2 separate regions of the Homo sapiens genome follow, and region 2 is linked to region 1. The links come from fine-mapping of genetic effects on gene expression. Tissue or cell type: subcutaneous fat. Region 1 holds a variant in brackets; the other region holds the start of a gene. All regions are shown on one strand. Distances are between the middles of the regions.

The links. PIP is the estimated chance that this variant, and not a neighbour inherited with it, causes the effect.
Region 2: LINC02235 starts here. The variant in region 1 is fine-mapped to the expression of LINC02235 in subcutaneous fat (FUSION, PIP 0.95).

The regions. Positions count from the first base shown.
Region 1 is chr8:81,776,638-81,779,399 of GRCh38, forward strand. No RefSeq gene overlaps it. Among named protein-coding and RNA genes, the nearest start is that of CHMP4C, 46 kb to the left of the region's middle. The variant C/A (reference allele first, on the strand shown) is at 1,494.
Region 2 is chr8:81,840,944-81,843,560 of GRCh38, forward strand. LINC02235 (long intergenic non-protein coding RNA 2235) reads left to right here and starts at 1,676. Exons shown (of 8, transcript NR_170320.1): 1 at 1,676-1,728. SNX16 (sorting nexin 16) reads right to left here and starts at 1,242. Exons shown (of 8, transcript NM_152836.3): 1 at 1,179-1,242. RefSeq lists enhancers at 316-1,248, 1,176-1,225, 1,657-1,926 and a silencer at 796-845.

The sequences.
Region 1 (2,762 bases):
CCTTTTCTTTTCTTCTCTTCTCTTAAAATGTTTTTCTTTTTAATTGCTTTAAAGGTATTTAGAAAAATAACAAATAAGATGTGGATCAGGCTTGTGTTTAAGAAGAAAAAATATCATTGCTAAAATTTTGGGTTTCTAAAAGCGTTGTTAAATAAAACAAAGCTTAAACTTAGAGAACGTTTGTGTCCTGTTTGAAGTAATTAAACTTACATTTATTGACTTGATCTTAAAACCATGCACTTTAGAATATAATTTTCCTGCCCCTTCATGGCCAATAGACTAGATTGTGAGGTTCTTGAGGGCAAGTACCCTAAACAAATGGCACCAACCAAATAAACAAAAAAACAGATGAAACATTTGTTGTTTTTTTTGTTGAGTGCCTGTGCTCAGTACCTATGTTTTTCTAGCTGTGTGAGTGCCACAGGATTCCCTGGGGAGCAGAGTCTGAGATGGAGAGAAGAGTGCATGAGGCTTGTTAAGGAGTGCTTTTGCAATTGCAACAACAGCAAAAATTGACAAATTGGATCTAATTAAACTAAAGAGCTTCTGCACAGTAAAAGAAACTATCAACAGAGTAAACAGACCAACCTACAGGATGGGAGAAAATTTTCACAAACTATGCATCTGACAAAGGTCTAATATCCAGCATCTATACGGAACTTAAATTTACAAGGAAAAAAAAAAACTCCATAAAAAAGTGGGAAAAGGACATGAACAGACACTTTTCAAAAGAAGACATACATGTGGCCAACAATCATATGAAAAAGCAGCTCAACATCACTGATCATTAGAGAAATGCAAATCAAAACCACAATGAGATACCATCTCACACTAGACAGAATGACTATTAAAAAGTCAAAAAATAGCAGATGCTGGTGAGGTTGTGGAGAAAAAAGAATGCTTATTCACTGTTGGTGGGAGTGTAAATTAGGTCAACCTCTGTGGAAGACAGTGTGGCAATTCCTCAAAGACCTAAAGACAGAAATACCATTTGACCTAGAAATCCCATTACTGGGTATATACCCAAAGGAATAAAAATCATTCTGTTATAAATATACATGCACGTGTGTGTTCATTGCAACACTATTCACAATAGCAAAGACATAGAATCAACCTAAATGCCCATCAATGATAGACATGATAAAGAAAATGTGGTATATATACAATGGAAAACTATGCAGCCATAAAAAAGAGTGAGATTACATCCTTTGCAGGGACATGGATGAAGATGGAGGCCATTATCCTTAGCAAACTAACACAGGAACAGAAAACTAAATACTGCACGTTCTCATTTATAAGTGTGAGCTAAATGATGAGAACACATGGGCACAGAGAGGGGAACAACACACAATGGAAACTATTGAAGGGTGGAGGGTTGGAGGAGGGAGAGGATTAGGAAAAATAACTAATGGGTACTAGGCTTAATACCTGGGTGATGATATAATCTGTACGACAAACCCCTATGACACATGTTTACCCATGTAACAAACCTG[C/A]ACATGTACCCTGAACTTAAAATAAAAGCTATAAAAAAGAGTGCTTTTAGCATTGATGTCTTTTAAAGAAAGAGAAGGATGAGATTGGATAGAGGAAAAGTTGTGTCTCAAAGGAGGCCTCTGAGCTGACCTCATGAGATACTCTGAATTGACAACTCAGTTGAGGTAATCTCTCATAGGGGTCAGTCACTGAATGTGCCCCAAAGGACATAGCCTTGGGTAAAGAGTACCATGGACAACAGTCCACACAGAATAGGCAGTAAGGCCTTTTTCTCTTTCTTTCTTTCTTTTTTTTTTTTTTTGAGACAAGGTCTTGCTCTTGTCGCCTAGGCTGGAATGCTATGGCGTGATCCCATGTCACTGCAACCTCCGCCTCCCAGGATCAAGCAATTTTCCTGCGTCAGCCTCCCGAGTAGCTAGGATTACAGGTGCCCCCCACACACCCAGCTAATTTTGGTATTTTTAGTAGAGATGGGGTTTCACCATGTTGGCCAGGCTGGTCTCAAACTCCTGACTTCAGGTGATCCATCCGCCTCGGCCTCCCAAACTACTGGGATTATAGGCGTGAGCTACTGTGTCTGTCCTGTCTTTTCTTGAAGGAGGATTTGGAAGGTACATTACAGCTTCCGCCATGGTGACCTCAGATAATTTAACTTTGTTGACCCTTTGTTGACTTTGTTGGCCCTCATTTTCTTCATTTATAAAACAAACATTAAAAATATCTTCATAGGGTCAGTATGAAGATTAAATATAGCCATACATGTAACACCTTTGTAGTGCTTAGCAGAGAGTAAGAAGTGTTCTCCATTATCATATTTTCTCAACTTCTCCAACAAATATAACAATCTGTCTGTAGGGCATTAGGTTTTCAGAAATGAACATCAACAGTTTCTGCCCTCAAGAAGTCTAGTAGGGGAAGAGGCAGACACATAAAGACAATGGAATGCAATGTGATCCTTGTTCTAATGTTGCCCACATGCCTTAAGCTGACCTCCTGGATGACCCGTTGCCTAAGCTGAGGACTGAAGGAACTAGCCTGAGGAAGTGGTGAGCAGTAGCTAAGGCAGGGAGGTGTGGAAAGGAATGTTGATGTCTAGAATGGCTGGAAGATTGGGTGAAAAATGGCGAGTAGGAAGAGATGAAGCTGGGAGGTTCTAGAAGCCAGATGATAAAGGTCTTGATATCCTCATGTAGGAGTTTCGATTTAGGATGAAAGCTCTGGGGAGTCAACGAAGGATTTTTAGGTGGTGATCAATTTGCATTGTACAA
Region 2 (2,617 bases), 64 kb after region 1:
AAGACTACACACAACAATAACTGCCCAACTTTTCATACGAAACTCTACTGGTGGGAAAGGTAAGAAATGAGTCACCTGGACTTGGAAAGATGCTGAAATAAGATTTTTAACTCTGGGCTGGGCGCTGTGGCTCACGCCTGTAATCCCAGCACTTTGGGAGGATGAAGCGGGTGGATCGCCTGAGGTCAGGAGTTCGAGGCTAGCCTGGCCAACATGGTGAAACCCCGTCTCTACTAAAAATACAAAAATTAGCCGGGCATGGTGGCGCAGGCCTATAATCCCAGCTACTTGGGAGGCTGAGGCAGGAGAATCGCTTGAACCCGGGAGGCGGAGGTTGCAGTTTGCCGAGATCGTGCCATTGCACTCCAGCCTGGGCTACAAGAGGAAAACTCCGTCTCAAAAAAAAAAAAAAAAAAGATTTTTAACTCAAGTGGCTCTCGGCAACATTTCCCCATTATCAAAGATTCATGAAACTTTAGCTGCTGATTCACCGCTCCTCGGTTCCGCCTGACGGCCTCCCCAAAAACAAGTAAGTCTGAAATCTCAACCTTCTCAAGGTCCGAGGGATCTACCTGGCCTTTGCCACTCTACTACCTGAGGCCGCCTGGCTGGGGGGAGGTCGCATATCAATACATATCAACACAACCACTGACGTCCGAAGATGTGAGCGCTACCCAAGCGTTAAAAAAACAAAACAAGCAAACAAACAAACAAAAAAACGTGCTGTGCTCATTAGGAGCGTCTTCGCCTCTACCCTGATGCGGAGTTGCTCCCAGGACGCTCAGTTCATTCTCACTCTGGAAAACCTCAGGTGAGGTGGCCCGACTCTGAGCAACCCCGTGGGCGGGAGGAAAGAGGCAAATACCAGGCACAGTTCGACCCTCGGAAGGTAAGGCCGGGGTCTGCGCCGGTCACGGGTCTTCCGCACTGCAGGCGGCGAGACCCGCAGCTCCCTGGGATCACAGACTCTCCCGCCTCCGCTGACCGGTGCGCGCCCAGCGCCTCCCAGACGCACAGTGGGGTCGGCGGTGGCCTGAAGGTGGCTGGGCTTCCTGCGGCGCCTCTCCACTCTCCCGCGGAGCCCCTTGCCGCCCGCCAGACATCAAGGTTGCAGGTGTCACCCGTACGAGAACCCGGGACAGCGACCGCCTGTCCTGAGGTAATGACCCAGTCTTTACCTCAGCCCCCTCGGCGATCCCGAACGAGCGCGCTTCCCGGTGACGGTTAAACCGGACTCTCCTTAACCGCAGCTTTTCGCCTCCTCCCTCAGCAGCGAGAAGCCTCACGTGACACCCCCGCCCCAAAAGCAGCTGCTCCCCGCCTCAGCCAGTCTCTGCCCGGGCCCAAGATCCCTGCTGTGTGGAAGGAGGGGCCGAACTGGGCGGGGGGGGGGGGGGGGGGAGAGAGAGAGAGAGAGAGGGAGGGAGGGAGGGAGGGAGGGAGAGAGAGAGAGAGAGAGAGAGAGAGAGAGAGAGAGAGACAGAGACAGAGAGAAAGAGAGAGAGAGAGGGCAAGAGCGAGAGACAGAGAGAGAGAGAGAGAGAGAGAGAGAGAGAGAGAGAGAGAGAGAGAGAGAGAGAGAAAGAGAAAGAAAACGAGCGAGGGAGAGAGCGAGAGCGAGAGAGAGAGAGAGAGAGCGTCACACACACATCTCTGCCGGAAGTGATGTCACGGCATGGGCGCCCGCCCACCGGAGGAGCGACTGGAGTTGATCGGCTGGGCGCTCAGGTAGCGAAGATAAATGTAATCTTGTGGCAGGAAATCGACATTCTCTGCACTATCTTTAGTTTTCCAACTGAACTTCTGAGAAATGGAGGCTACAATACCTAGTTTGCCAAACAGGAGAAGACTACAATTCCCAGAAGGAACTGCGACCAACATTGGTCCGTGCTCATACTTTGCATCATGGGACTTGTAGTCATCACCAGCTTGCGCTGATTCTAACAGGTTATAGATTGTTTTCTAGAATTAGCAGCGCTTTAAGGGATGACAATCGATTAGAAGAGTAGGAAGATAGAACACTGCTTAGTAGCTGATCCGTTCTACATAATTCAGAAGTTCTCATTGGCAGAGAACCCCTGAAATTCTGTAGTGTCTTTTTACTATCCGGTGAGCAATTTGATCCCGATGATGGAATATTAGCCTTGTTAGACATGCGCTTCTGAAGACCTGTGCAGTAGGGAAAGCCGAGTTTTTTGATAGGCAAATCCCAAGATTCAGACCGGTCTACAGGTCTGTTCATCATTAGAATCAGATAATGTGGTTGAAAAATCATTCCACGATTTCTAAGGCTTTTGTATAGTCCCAATGTTACCCATGGAGGGTCTTGACTACAAGTCATCCAGGTTCTTGGTTTTTTTAACAAAGAATTGGACAAAACGCACAAAGAAAGCAAGGAAAGAATGAAGCAAGGAAAGCAGAGATTGAAATGACTGTACACTCCACAGAGTGGGAATGGCCTCCAGCCAGTGGCTCAAGAGCCCTGGTTACAGGATTTTCTGGAGTTTAAATATCCGCTAGAGATTTCCCATTGGTTACTTGGTTTACACCCTCTGTAAATTAAGGAGTAGCCTGCAACCAATCAGAGGCTAAAGTTAAGTTACAAAGTTGTACTCCT